2 linked regions of the Homo sapiens genome follow. The protein of the gene in region 1 purifies or fractionates together with the protein of each later gene. This does not show direct contact. Each region holds a gene or a part of one and is shown on either strand. Other genes may lie near its edges.

The links. Proteins that work in one complex are often made in the same cells at the same time.
Region 2: the proteins of CDX1 (region 1) and CABIN1 purify together in Homo sapiens (affinity purification with mass spectrometry; 2 studies listed by BioGRID and IntAct, with this or other methods). This does not show direct contact.

What each region holds. Positions count from the first base shown.
Region 1 is NC_000005.10:150,175,990-150,183,777, reverse strand, and holds part of CDX1 (homeobox protein CDX-1), read right to left. Parts: intron 1,011-7,788; coding exon 865-1,010; intron 305-864; coding exon 98-304; 3' UTR 1-97. UniProt on the Homo sapiens protein: Plays a role in transcriptional regulation. Involved in activated KRAS-mediated transcriptional activation of PRKD1 in colorectal cancer (CRC) cells. Binds to the PRKD1 promoter in colorectal cancer (CRC) cells.
Region 2 is NC_000022.11:24,055,911-24,063,303, reverse strand, and holds part of CABIN1 (calcineurin-binding protein cabin-1), read right to left. Parts: intron 7,113-7,393; coding exon 6,944-7,112; intron 4,078-6,943; coding exon 3,941-4,077; intron 3,381-3,940; coding exon 3,163-3,380; intron 1,358-3,162; coding exon 1,279-1,357; intron 346-1,278; coding exon 158-345; intron 1-157. UniProt on the Homo sapiens protein: May be required for replication-independent chromatin assembly. May serve as a negative regulator of T-cell receptor (TCR) signaling via inhibition of calcineurin. Inhibition of activated calcineurin is dependent on both PKC and calcium signals.

The sequences.
Region 1 (7,788 bases):
CAGGGCTGAGACTCGGACCAGACCTCCTGGGCCCACAGGAGCCACACTCCCAGCACCCGAGTCCCCAGGTCCCCCGGCGCACAGGCTGGGCATGGGGCTATGGCAGAAACTCCTCTTTCACAGGCATTGGAGAGGAGGTGGCCAGGAGGCTGGTGTTGCTGGGACACAGGCCCCCCAGGGATGGCCCGGCTGGGGTGGCCGTGATGTCGTGGGCCATCGGCGGCTGTGGGGGCTGTTGCTGCTGCTGTTTCTTCTTGTTCACTTTGCGCTCCTTTGCCCGCCGGTTTTGGAACCAGATCTTCACCTGTGGGGTTGGAGGACAGAGATGGAGTGGGCAGCAGGGAGAGAGTGAAAGAGAGAGTGCAAGAAGGAGAGACGAGGACAGTGAGCCCCTATTTCTCCATGTGGCTTTGTGGCTTATCTCCTCTCCAGCCTCCCAGACCACATGGACCCTGAATTCATTCTCCCCCTCTAGACATTGCACCCCTACCCTGGAGATGCCCTTCTTTGTAACCTTCCCCCTCTCCATCTTCCCAGGCCACACTTCTTCCAGGAAGCCTTCCTTGTTATCCCTGTGACTGCTCCCCTAATGTAAATAGCACGTGCACCTCCTACAGCACTAATAATAGCCTGCTGTAGCCTGTGGCTAATCAGATCCCCTTACCCCTGCCTTTGGGGGCAAGGATACTGGGTTTTGTTAAGGGAGGGTGCTGGTAGCACCTCAGTTTCTGCTGTGCTGTGTGACAATGGCCTGGAGACTCAACCTCTCTGTTTTCCTTCTACTGAGCTCTGTACTCTGCCTGGCAGCCTGGAGACCAGAGTCCTCGCACTGCTCCTATGGCTGAGATAGGAAGACAGACACACCTGCCGTTCAGTGAGCCCCAGATTGGCAGCCAGCTCTGATTTCCGCCGGATTGTGATGTAACGGCTGTAATGAAACTCCTTCTCCAGCTCCAGGCGTTGGTGGTCGGTGTAGACCACGCGGTACTTGTCCTTGGTCCGAGTCTTACCTGAGAAGCAGAAGGAGCCGGGAAGGAAGGTGAGTTGAGAGGAGGAGGCTACAAAAAAGGCCCAGGCAGGACCCCCAGGAGGAAGACAATCCAGGCTCCCTGAAGTAGGACCCTGAGGTGGGGAGAGACATACACTCCAGGTTCAAGGGAAACAGTCATTTCCCAGACTCAGACCCACAGACTCACAGTCTGGGAGGCAAGTACTCCTCCCATGCCCATCAGGGAGGCAGTGAGGTAGGCAAAACAACCAGCTCAGGGTTACACAGCAGGCTGCTGACGGAGCTGCAGCTTCAGCCCAGGTCTCCTGACCCAGAGCCCTATTCTGAAGGCCAGCTCCAACAACTTTAAACCAGCAGCTTCCAGATGTGGCTGCACAGCAGCCATTCTCCAGGAGCTTGTGAAGAACACAGGTTCTGGGCATCCCTGACCAGTTAGTCAGAAAGCCTGGGGGTGGAATCTGCATTTTTAACAAACTCTCCACTCTGTGGTCAGATATCAGATAGGTTTGAATGCTGGAGACACGGAGGGGATATCGGGCAGGCAAGGGTGATCAAGACTAATGAGATGGCAGCTGCTCCTTCCTCCTGTGCAAGAGAAGAGAGAAGGGAAGAGCCACCACAGGTAGAGGTGGAAGCAGAAAGAATCTGGAACTGTCCCAGGTGTGGGCTCCCTAGTTCTTGCCGAATGCCTGGGGATGGCCTCAACATCAGACAGGGAGGACTGGGGCTGCTGCTGGACCCCTAGGACCTGCCAGTTACCTCAAAGGCTCTGGCTCACGATACCAAGCCCTGAGCTGGGCCTGCACCAGAGGCCGGAGGCTGGTCTGCCCAAGCCGTCCACACATCCCCCTGTGTCCAGGCACCGGGCAGGAGAGATGCAGCTCATCCCACAGATCCTCACTGAGCTCCTGCTGTGAGCCAAGCTCTGGGCTACAGCACTGAGCAAAATAAAACCCCTGCCCTCGTGATGCTTAGCTTCTAGGGGAGGGAGATGATGAAAAGAAAAATAAACATAAAATATTTGATACACTAGTTGATAAGTGTTTCAGAAGAAAAGGAGGCAGGGAAGGAGGACTGGGAATTTAGGGAGGAGGTGGTCTGTGATTTTAAATAGAATGGGCCGTGAAGGCCTTGCTGAAAAGGGGAATTTCAGCAAAGGTGTAAAGGAGGTACAGGAAAGAGTCATGTAGGGCCAGGCGCGGTGGCTCACACCTGTAATCCCAGCACTTTATGGGAGGCTGAGGGAGGTGGATCACGTGAGGTCAGGGGTTCAAGACCAGCCTGGCCAACATGGTGAAACCTCATCTCTACTAAAAAATACAAAAATTAGCCGGGCGTGGTGGCATACATCTGTAATCCCAGCTACCCAGGAGGCTGAGGCGGGAAAACAGGAGAATTGCTTGAACCTGGGAGGTGGAGGTTGTGGTGAGCCAGGATTACACCACTGCATTCTAGCCTGGGTGATCGAGTGAGACTCCGTCTCAAGAAAAATAAACAAAAAAAAGAGTCATGCAGACATCTGGGGAGAGGCTTCTAGGCAGAGGGAACAGCAAGTGCAAAGGCCCCGAGGTGGGGCATGCCTGCTGTCTGCCTGCTGTCTGACAGTGAGGAGCTGTGAGGAAGCTGGTGGAGCTGAGGTGCAGTGAGAAGGGGGACGGGACAGGAGACAAGGGGAGGGACTCTGGGTTTTCCTCTGTCTGGGACAGGAGCCATTGCAGGATTCTGAGCAGAGGAGACATGAAGTCTGATGTAGGTTTTAATATTACTCTGGCTACTGCATGGAGAACAGATTTGCAAGAGGAAGGGGAAGTGCAGGGAGAGCTGCCGTAACCCAGGAGAGAGGGCGGTGCCTTGGCTTCTTTATGAGGCTCAGCCTGGGGCCCAGAGCTGGATTTGAGGACCAGCTGAGGTTAATGTCAGGACTTTCTTTGGGACTGGGATCAGAGGTCTGTCTGGAGAGAATACTAAGAGTCATGCTTGGCCTGGGCTTGTGTGGGGCCTGGCTAAGCACCAGTTTCCTTTATAAGAAGCTGAGCACGTGGCTATAAATAGGAGGCGCACGCAAGCACTTCCAGACCCGCACACGCTCCCACCAGGGCATGGCGGGTCTCTGAAAGACCATCAACCCCTCCCGCCTCTCGCAAGTGTCCCCACCACAGCCCAGCCTTCATCTTCTTGGGTTTCAGCCCTGGCCCTGCCTGTCCCTCAGCACCCCTGTACTAACCACTCACCCGCCCCCATTCTGACGCCTGTCCCCCTCCACCAAGCCCACGCAGCTTGGCAGGACAGCCACTGGGCTCTCCGTGAGCCAAATGGCTTTGTGGAGAATGGGAGGCAGCAGATGTTCCTGGGCAGCTTTTCCCTGGGTTTCCTGCCAGAGCAGAGGAACCACACTGGACGCTTCCATGTCCACTGACCTCAGTCCGCTGCCCAGCATAGCACGGGATAGCCTCGGACTTCAGCCAGGTTTGGCCCCAGGAAAGGGATAAGGGAGTGGCTGCCCAGGCCTTGGCTCCAGATTGGGCCCCTCCTTGGCCTAGAAAATGCAACGCCGGCTCAAAAACAGTTCTGCCTAATGCCACCAGCACTGGAGGCCAACATGGCTCTGAATCCACAGACCCATTGGGTTCACTGGGCTAAAGCTGGAAGCGGTTGTGAGAGTTTAGTCTCCTCGCACTTTACTGAGGAAGAGATCGGGGTTCACAATGGTTGCATGGCAGCTGGAGGGCCAAAGAAGAGGCCTGGTGAGCCCTTCCAGTCCTACCTCCCTGTGTAGTCAGGGTCACTGAGGCCCAGGCAGGCACGGGCCTGCCCAAGGCCATGCCCCATGCCCTAGAGCTCTTGCTGCCTCTCCAGGGTACAATTCCGCATGCTGCCAAATTTAGGGCCCACTGAGCCTGCCATGGAGCCCCCAAAGTGTTGGTAACAGAAGCTTAAATAGCAGACCACCCCTCCATTGCTACTTCTGGGAAAGGAGAGCCCAGACCATGGTGAGGGAAGGCTACTGAGAGCCCCAGGCTGGGGGCCCTTAAAATGCCCAGAGGACTCACAGCCACCCCCAGGAGGACAGGCCTGAGGTAGGGCATGAGGCTCCCTGCCCACCCAGACCTTCGCCTAGGGATGACAGGCAGTGGTCCTGAAGGTGCTTTTTCCTTAGAGTCCTAGCACCCACTCCTGCCTCTTCTGACGAGCAAGCCCAGACCCATGAGAGCCATTTCATAGGTGGGGGGAAATGGGCTCAGAAAGGGCACTTGCAGAGGGCTGTCCTGACTGGTCATGGTATGAACCAGGACTCAGGTTTCTGACCTCAGGCCCAGCTCTTCCACAAGGGAGGGGGTCAGGAGTGAGACCAGATGGAGATAGGGTTTAGCTGCACAATTACTCCTCTCTCTCCTGGCAAGGCTGCCAGTGAAGACCTGGCCCACAGGCCTTGTCACTCCTCTCTGGGCTCTGGAGAGGAGCTGGTGGGCTCAGGAACCCATTGGCCAACTTCTCTCTGGTGGAGCTGCTTGAAACACACAATTTTCGTGCAAGAAAATGGCTCTGCCAAAGAACAAAATGTTTGCTATCACACCGTGTGGCTCAGAAACCAGGGAATCCCATATGCTGTTCCAGGAGTGAGAACTGAAACATCCTCCTTAGCGCCCAACTTGGCGATATCTAGCCTCATTTAACAGGCACATACCCTTTGACCGAAGAATCCCACTTCCAGTAACTGATCCGACCAAGAGCTGCCCAAAGCTCCATCTGTTTCTGATAACACAAGACAAAAAACAATGTACACGTGTACAAGCAGGGAGCTGGTGAGAGAAGGGATGGTGCATTCGTGGAGAGGAGCATTATGCAGTCATTAAAAAGAAATTTCAAAACCCCATATATCCCAGTATGGAACAATTTCTAAGACGTGTGAAAAAAAAAGCAAGACAGAATAGTGTAAATAGTATGTTACCATTTGTGTATAAAAATGGGGGAGACACACACATACCCAAACATAGTTCTTTCTGAAAGAATATACAAGAAGCCAGTAATAGGGGCTGCCTCTGGAGAGGGCACTGGAGGTTGGAAAGCCACAGGTAGGAGGGAGACTTTGGGTTTTTTAAATCTTTATCAAGTGTATGTGTTAATTTGTATTTTTAATGACAGCCCCAGGAGCCCTGGGCTCCAGTCCCAGCTCTGGGCTGGAACTCCCAACTGCCCCAAGATACCTCTGGAGCCTGGGAAGGAGCGGGCAGGGAGGTGTGTGAGAGCAGTGGGGTGGGGAGAGGGCTGGGGATGAATTATTTACAGGCCCCTGGGACGCTGGAGCTAAGGGGGAAGTCCAGGCTCCTATAACAGGTGTCTGCTGAGGGGCGGGCCACTCCCAGCCACCTAATAAGTAATCCTCTGGGCCAGATGCCAGTGTGAATGGGTGGGAGGGAGAATGGGGAGCCCCCTCAGCTCTTCAGGGGTGAGCACAGAGGGGAAGAGCCTTGGGTAACTCACCGAAATGGGAGGCTTTCTCTCTCCAGTTTTGGGATGCGCAGAATGTCCCATCCATGTGGATTAGGCCACCATGAGAGGTAGCAAACTCCCGTCCCCTAATGCATGCACGGTACAGGCCAATGGCTCCCAGTGCCTGACCAGCAGCCTTGGAACTGCCTGGGAAGCTTTTTCACAGTGCAGATTCTGGCCCCAGAAATTCAAATTTAGTGGCGCTAGAATGGGTCTCAAAATTTGGTACTTGAATAGTTTTCCAGGTGACCCTAACGTGTGGTTGGTTGGGCTTTAGCTCCATAATTACTCCTCTCTGTCCTGGCAAGGCTGCCGGTGAAGACCTGGCCCACAGACCTTGTCACCCTTCTCTGGGCTCTGGAGAGGGGCTGTGGAGCCCAACAGAGGTACACTCTGTGACTCCAGAGGTGTCTCGGGGCAGTCAGGAGTTCCAGCCCAGAGCTCCTGGATGTCATTAAAACTAAACCTCTGGGGTTGTGGAGTGCAGCTGCTCACTGGCTGGGTAACCTAGGACAGTCTCCCCACCTCTCTGAGCCTCATTTTCTGTATTTGTAAAATGGGGAAAATTAATATTCTAATAATAGCCAACACATCCATGTGCTGGGCCCTTTGTATACATCTCTCAATGACCCGTGGAGTTGGGCAACTATCACTCTATTTTACAGATGAGAAAACTCAGGGTCAGAGAGGACCACGCATCAGGCAGGTGGGATTCAAAACCAGGTCTATCTGGCCTCAGAAACAGCAGTAGAACCTATCAATCAAATGGTACAAGGTTTCTTGTAGTTCTCTCCAACCCTGCGGCATACAGGGGCTCACTTGAGATAGATGGACAATGTCTAGCATGCAGGAGGTGCATGGGGAAGGGCAGATCTTACTCATTTCCAACAGTTGTGGGATGACCATCTGGCAGGAATGCCAGGGAATGGATCTGTGCAATGGGCGGTCTGCTAGAAATGACCGTTTACTTATAAGGTCCCTTCCAACTTGGAAACGTGAACCTCCCAATGTTTGTTGATTCTCTGATTGTGTTTGTTATTGTAGCTGAAAGAATTCTAAGACCAATTTCAGTCTGAGAGTCTAGACACTGGGCCTGCCCGGGGGGAGGATGGGGACAGGAGCCACAGTGGCCTGCAGTGGGGGCTCCCCATCCAGCCTGGGCCAGGCAAGGACAGAGTGTGGCCTCTGCTCCAGCACAATCAAATGGCCCCTAGGTCAGCACTTCCTTTGCCCTCTTCCTGCCGGGTGTGTGGCCCTGGTGGATGACCAGCTTTGGCCCCCCAAGGCCTGGACCACAAATCCAGCTCTGAAAACCTTTGTGACTCCTCCCTGGGTGGTCCAGCCCCAGCTGGCTGTGCTTCAAGATCCTAACCCCAACACACACATGCAAACAGGCATGCACGTCTGTACACACAAGGGCTTGCTGAAAATGCAGATTCCCAGGCCCCACTCCAGATCTACCACATCCTAATTTCTCTGTCATCTTTAACGAGGCCCCTGTGGATTCTAAACCACCAGCTAAAGTCAGTGGGTCCTGGTCCCAGTTCCATGCCATCTGTGTGGCCTAGAATTAGTTCCTCCTCTCCTCTGGGCATTGGTTTAGCCTGTGCACCAGTCCAAGTGCCCTCGAGACTCTGCAGTTTTGAGCCCTTTGTGCAGCTTTGAGCCTTCCCTTAAAGATCAGACCTCCTGGCCCCCCCTGCCACCTTGCTGCCTGCCACCCCAGGCAACCCCCACAGGGAGCACCTGCCCCACACGCCCTCCAGCCAAGTCCCTCAGAGACCCACACTGCATGCAGCAACAGGCGATGGGGAGCTCACCCGTGTCTGTGATGCCAGCCTAGGAATGACAAACGAAGGGCATAGGGCTTTTGGCAGGAGGGGGCTCAGGGGAGGTGGGAATAGGGTAGCCATAGAATGCTACTGCAAAGAGCCCCCTTTTCCAAGATAAGGAAGCAAGTCCAGAGAGCTTATAGGTCACTTGCTGTGGATGACTGCAAGGCCAATAGGCAAAGGAAAGGGTGGGAAAGAGGGGCTCAGGAGGACTGATCTCACCCCAGATAATACTTGTAGGAGCGCTGCAAGGGTGGCAGGCTGTGGGCCAGCTCAGAGGTGGTGGCACTTCTGGTGAGGGGCCTAAATTGTAGCAGCGTCACACTCTACTGAGGTTTGGGAAAGGCTGGGTGTTTGGGGCGAGCTTCTAGACCTTGCCTGGTGGCAGAGACCTGGACTGTGGTCCAGCCTGGTCATCTTAGTTGAAGGACTTGACAAGTGACTGAATTTCCCTGG
Region 2 (7,393 bases), on another chromosome or scaffold:
CCAAGCCCAGTGCCCGGGCAGGTGCTATGCATGTACACATGCATGCACACACACACACACACACACATACACACACACACCCTCAACATGGTCAATTTTCTGCCCACCCTGCTGGGTGTCAGGGCATGCTCCCCAAGCAGCTGACCATGGAACTAACCTGCAGCGCCAGGAAGCGAGCCTTCAGCCAGTAAACACGGACCACAAACTCCAGCCAACCATCCTCGAACAGGTCGCGCTGGGACGAGGCAAATGACAGCTGTAGGAGGTCACCCAGGCAGTGGGTCCCTGGGAAGTCAGGTCCAAATCTGCCATTCACCATACCAGCAGGGCAGTTCCGAGGAGACACTAAAAACCATCAGGCCAACGAGTCAACTTCATGTGTAGCATTCTAATGCCCTTCTGCTTCTCAGAAGTTGCACTTGGCCCTAACCACACCCACCCTATCTCCAGGGGCACCCTAAGCCCCTCAGAGCCCTACAGCTCCCTGAGTGGCAGGCATCAGAGAGGTTGGACCAGTTAAGACAAAGATATGCAGAGACCCTGCCCCCTGCCGAGAGTCAGGGGCAAGGGCAAGGGGAAGCAATTTTACAGACAGCATTGAGTATATCTACATTCCACCAGGTGGTAGTTTAAAAGTCAGAATGAAGCTGGGCCCAGTGGCTCATGCCTGTAATCCCAGCACTTTGGGAGGCTGAGGTGGGCGGATTACTAGAGGTCAGGAATTCAAGACCAGCCTGGCTAACATGGTGAAACCCCATCTCTGCCAAAAAATACAAAAATTAGCCAGGCATGGTGGCACACGCCTGTAGTCCCAGCTCCTCGGGAGGCTGATATGGGAGAATCACTTGAGCCTGGGAGGCAGAGGTTGCAGTGAGCCAAGATCATGCCACTGCACTCCAGCCTGGGTGACAGAGCAAGACGCTGTCTTACCAAAAAAAAAAAAAAAAAAAAAAAAAATCCGTATCACCAGAAAAATTACTGAAGCTACATAATACATAAAGCACTGCATTGAACAGTCACACCAAAACTGAGATCCCACTTCCTTCAATCTTGTGTAACAGCAAAGCAGGGAGGTGGCTCCCTCTGGGGGCTCAGCTACTGCTAACCACTTCTTGAGTATCCAGGAGATTTCCCTGGGACCCTGACAAGCCAACCCAAAAAATGTGCCTACTGTAGATATAAGGCTAAATTCCATGACTCAGTCTCCCGCCTCAGCTTTCTCCCAGCTGCTGGGGGTTCAGATATTAGCCTGGCCACAGAACACATAATGCCTCCTACCTGCAGAGCTTCTGCCTTTGGTCAGCAGCCACTGGTCCAGCTGGAGTTCCATGCAGGAGAGAGACATCAGCATCATGTCCTGCAGGACAGACACAGGAAGGTCAAGAACAGTATCACAAAGCCTCTTCACAGTGTGGGGGGTAGGGGGCTGTGGAAGGAAACAAAACTATACTTTTTGATAAAAATATAATTCTTTCTATCCACTTGCCATTTCATAAGTGATAATCAGTGGCTACTCGCCAGAACATAAAAAGAGCCACATGGATGTATGTTGGGACAAGACTTGGGAGAGGCCAGGAGACCGGTCTTCAGAGTTCTTGTCCTGTTGAAGAGGCAGCCCTGTCACCTGCCAAGTGCTGGGACGGACACTGCATCCAAATTATAGAACTCAACCCTTAAAAGTTCTGGGCAGCTGGTATACCATTCCCAGGGCACTTGAGGAAGCTGAGGCTCAGTGATGAGAAGGCACTTGCCCATTGGGCACAGCTGGAAGGTGATCATCAGCCTGCTTTGCCTGGGGATCAAAGCCCTGGTTCCTCCTGCTGTTTCACAACTGCCCCAGGGGAGCATGGCCTGGTGGGCAGAAGCTGCCAGGAGGTTGCCCTGAGGTAACTCAGTGGAGGGTGCCCACCAAGGGATGACTGACCTACAAGCTCTTCTACCTCCTGTGCTCTCAAGTCAGAAAGACCACCAGGCATCCCTGAATGTTCCTGGTGCTCCTGCTTCAGCATTCAGTGTCCCACCTCCAACAGGAGTAAGGGGCCAGAGCACCTTGTGTTCCCTTGAGCTCCAGGAGGCACCAAGTGGAGGAGGCTGGGGTGTGGAATGCAGCAGGAAGACAAGGCTCAGTGAGGCTCAGCCCCCTACTGCTGGTGGCCCCCAAAGCTTCTCTAAGCACGCTATTTAGCTTCTGCTGTTTTATCATCTGTTAAAAATAGTCATAGGCCAGGCATGGTGGCTCCCGCCTGTCATCCCAGTGCTTTGGGATGCCAAGGCATCAGGATCACTTGAGCCCAGGAGTTCCAGACCAGTCTGGGCAACATGGCAACATGGCAAGACCACATCCTAACATCGTAACAAAAGGAGACCCCCATCTCTACAAAACAAAACAAATTTTTTTTTTTTGAGACAAGAGTCTCGCCTTGTCGCCTAGGCTGGAGTGCGGTGGCGCCATCTCGGCTCACTGCAAGCTCCGCCTCCCGGGTTCACACCATTCTCCTGCCTCAGCCTCCTGAGTAGCTGGGACTATAACCGGGTGTGGTGGTGTACGGCTGTGGTTCCAGCTACTTTGAAGGCTGAGGTGGGAGGACTACCCGAGCCCAGGAGGTTGAAGCTGCAGTGAGCCGTGACTGCACCACTGCACTCCAGCCTAGGCAACAGAGCAAGACCCTGTCTCAAACAACAACAACAAAAGCCTCAGTCACAGTCCTTGCCAACTCAAACAAACCAAATGTTTCCCTTTCCTCCAGCTTCTCCTGGCAAGGCTTCCTGTGACTCAGTAAACAACCCGAGAAGCCCTCCCCATGACTCTCATTCCCTCACACATCCCATGTCTAGTTCAACCTATCAGCTCTGCAACCACAAACCAGCACCCCACTATTACCACTGGATCTCAGCCACTGCTCCCCTGGCATGGCAGCAGCCTCCTGATAGCCCCGTGAGCCCACTCTCACCCCTAAGTGTATCCTCCACTCAGCCATCAGGGAGCTTTCTAGGCACAAACTAGGTTCAGTGACTTCCTGCTTCGACACCCACAAAAAAACCAGGTTCCAGGCCCACAAGTAGATGCAGCCAAACACAACAGCAGCCCCACACCCATGCAAGATCCCTGTCCCCATGCCCTGGTCCCAGTTCAATACCAGCCCTTGAGAGGCTCCCCCTAACCTTGATGTGCTTGTTGCTGCAGTCCCTCAGCAGCGGGTTGGGCAGGCTGGTGCTGTGCCTCCTCCAGCTGTGGTAGACGCTGAGCACGACCTCCGCCAAGCCTGGAGGCCACCTTACCAAGAACTTGTGGCCCATGGCTTTCAGGTAGCGCATCATCAGCTCCAGGATGCCCCCGTTGGTTAGGTTCTCCAGCAGGAACTCATGCACGTCCTGCTTTTCTGCCCGGGGAGCAAGAACAACCTGACTTGAATAAAGAGTACCTTCCATGCCAGGGTCTCCTATTTACTTTGGGACAGTAAAGACTGTTCCCTCCCTCTACCATCTGATCCAGGTGGACATGATACCACGTTGTGGTGCTGAGATCAGGCTACTGGGTTCAATGCCTGGCTCCAACCCTCAGCAGCTATGATTGAGCCTCTCTGAATCTCCGTATCTAAGGTGGACATCAAAAGGGCAGACCTCCAAGTGCTGCCATGTGCACTAATCTCACTCAACAGTTATACACTGATACACACTCAACAGGTGTGCTTATATAGATTCAATTTGCAAAGCGAAGTCTCTGAATTTGGCCATAAGAAAGCATAGCAAGTATGAGCCTGGACATTTCAGAAGACCTCCAAGCTGACCACAGGGCTTAGGTCCAAGACTAATCCAGGCAGACTCTTGGCCACACTAAAAAACACCCCAGAACCATTCTCCCAGAACAAAACATAAGCAGGTTATAGGATAGTGGGAAGAAGAATTCCCAAAGTGAATGGTCACACTGCTCGATTCCTACCAGATTCCATGAATGTGGCTGAGTCAAATGACAGCCTTTGAGGCCCAATGCTTGGGAAGCTTTCCAGTTTGGCTTCTGACTGGACTTCATAGTTATTAAAGGAATCATCTTCCTCCTCAGGGTCCAGCTTTCTTAACCTGCATGTAACATGCCAAAATCACAAAGTCACAACACACGTTCTGACACAAGCATCTGAACTCTTCCTGTTAGAGAAACTAAATCTGAGTCAGGAAGAAGGCAGCTAAAATAAGTGGGTGGTGGGGTCCAGAACCCAGGCCTCCAGGAGGCTCTGCCTCTCTCCAGGGCCTCATGAGCCAGCATTTGGTCTGTATCCTGTCTCGGTCATTCATCTCATCAACAGATGATTACCGAGCACCAGCTATGTGCCAGGCACTGTGCTAGGCACCAAATACAGCAGCCCTAAATGTGGCAGATCCTGCCTGCAGTAAGCTTACCCTCTAGAGAGACACAGCCAATAAGCAGGTACACAAACTAACCCAAATAAGGACCACCTCACAACAGAGTGCTTGAGACTATGGGTCAAAAGGGCCCTGCTTTAGAGAGCAGGGTCAGAGAAAGCCTTTGAGAGGGGATAATGTTCATGCTGACACACTGGAGGAGGAGAAGGGCTTGCAATACAAAGATGCAGGACAAGAACAGGTACAAAGGCACAGGCCAGAAGAGCACCTGGTGTGTTCTAGGACCTCATGGGAGCCCAACAACTAAGGTGGAAAGCGGATAGATAGGTGGGAGTTTGGGGGATACATCAAGCTCATCTGAACTTGGTCCTTCCGTGGCTCCTCACAAAGCTGTGGGTGGGCCCAGTCTCGGGACTGGGGATGCCTCTCCTGGCAGGCACTCCTCCCAAGGACCCATTTCAGCCAACCTTGTGGTGTTCCCTCAACCCAGAACCCCTGCAGCATAAACACTCAGGGCACTTGTGAATGTCTTCATTCACGTATTGCACACACTCCCAGGGTGACTCCATCAGGCGAGCTACCATGTTGCTCTTGCCTTGACCATTCAAAGAAGCAGAAACTAAGTTAAGTGTGGTTGCTCAAGATTGTAATCTCAACATTTTGGGAGGTGGAGGCAGAAGGACGGCTTGAGGCCAGGAGTTCAAGATCAGCCTGGGCAATATAGCAAGACCTCATCTCTACAAAAAACAAGAAATAAAATTAGCTGGGCATAGTGGTGTGCACCTGTGGTCCTGGGTATTCAGGAGGATCCCTTGAGTCCAGGAGTTCAAGGCCACAGTGAGCTATGATTGTGCCACTGTACTCCAGCCTAGGCAACAGGGCAAGACCCCATCTCTAACAAAAATAAACAACAAAGGAGCAGACACTAAACCACAAACGAAACCAACAACTAAAATGAAGATTAAAAAGAAAGTCGAAACCATCCAGGTAAATGGGACTAGGGAACAAGACCTTGGAGTAAAAAGCAGGGCTAAGGGGAATATAGGGTCACTCAAATCTCTTGGCACCATCAACCAAAGAACAATCCTGCAGTTCTTCCAAAGAGAAACTTTCTTCTGGTATTACCCCTTAAGAAAAATTCATCAGAAGGCACTGCAGCCCCACTTTGGTTCTGCGTCAAGTACTGAGAACAATCATTATTTCTAAGCATTTCACCTTCACCTCAGAAAGACAACAAATTAAGAAAATTAGGAATCTTGCTGTAAAATAAATTTACAAACCACCTAAAGCTTCTGGCTTCTCCTTCACCACTTTGATGTTGTTACCACTGAAATAAACTGTCATGGGAAAGAACTAGATAGTTTAACTCCTGTTTAAAGATGGCATATCGAACACATATGGTTAGCTCCCAAACTCCATTCCAGTAACAACGAAGGAGTAAAAAAGGTATAAACTCACAAAGACAGAAGATAGGCGAGGATGCCCCAGCAGACAAAAAATGTACCAGCCAACTGTTAGAAGGCAGATGGCCCAGTGCAAATGAAGAATGGTGTCTGCCGAGAGAGGCCTCTCCACTCAGCTAAGGGAGGAGAAAGGGGAGTATTAAGAAACCAACCCACTGGCACCATAAACTCCAGGAAGGCTCAGAAATTGAGGATCCTAAAGCCTCTGAAGGAGGTGAGCAGGCAAGGACAAAAAGCAGAAGGACTGGCCGGGCGCCGTGGCTCATGCCTATAATCCCAGCACTTTGGGAGGTTGAGGCGGGCAGATTACGAGGTCAGGAGATCAAGACCATCCTGGCTAACACAGTGAAACCCCGTCTCTACCAAAAATACAAAAAATTAGCCAGGCGCGGTGGCAGGCACCTGTAGTCCCAGCTATGCGTGAGGCTGAGGCAGGAGAATGGCATGAACCCGGGAGGTGGAGCTTGCAGTAAGCCCAGATAGCACCACTGCACTCCGGCCTGGGCGAAAGATCAAGACTCCGTCTCAAAAAAAAAAAGGCAGAAGGACTGGTGAAAACCTAAGTAAGAAGCACTGGGGACCAAGTCCCTCCCAGCTCTGGGGAGCCTGGTTCCTGCTTGTCCCCTAGGCTCCTGAGAAGCACTAAGAATGAGTGAAACCCAGGAATACTTCACAAGCTCCTCCTCTACCTTCTCAGAATGCAAGGGAATCCTGCTGAGCCTGGAGCAAATCAAGTAGACACGGACTCCCTGAAAGCAGGAGGGAAGCTCCCTTCCATGGGGTTTTCAGGGCATCTGCACCCAAGGCACAGCACCCCTCTGCCTCCCAGCAACAAATAGATGTCTTGTAAATACACAGGGACATGAGTATGTTGCTTCTAGCTCTCAAAAGATGAACAAGTCACAGCTCCTGACTTCAGGAATTTCAGAGGTGGGAAGAGGCGAGAAAAATCCAAGATCCTACTCCAGTGAGATTTGTGCTTCAGACATCTGCACAGATGTTATGGGAACACAGAGGAGGAGACCAGAGAAGAGGGTGGCAATGGAATGAGAAATGTTACTGATGGTGTATGCTGGAGCTTTGTGGGTTTGTTTCTGACAATCAGAAAAAATACACAGTACCTGGACGGCAAGAACTTCATCAGAAGCTCCTGGAAGTCTACTTTCTCTTCTTTTTTGCACTTGGTGTTTCGGACACGGGCAGACCGCCGCTTTGCTGTTTCTCCACTCTCTTCTGAAATCTTCTTCCGTTTTACCCCTTTCTTGGATTTATCTCCCCCAGAAATATCACCTTCACAAAGAATGCAAATTAAAATCTTACACGGTGGCAGGGATGAAAAAAATGCACCACACAGACACATCAATCTCCCTCTTTTATAAATCTACTAGCATTAAACTCTTTGACATTCAAAAAATCTTCCATCTCTTCTTCAACAACAAAGAATCCTGAGTAAAATTAATTTGAAACCCCTTAACTCTCACACCTTTCTTGACTTCACAGGACCCACAAGCCAGATTTCAAGATTACTTTCCACAGCTACAAAGCAAGCAACACCCTTACCCTCCCATCCC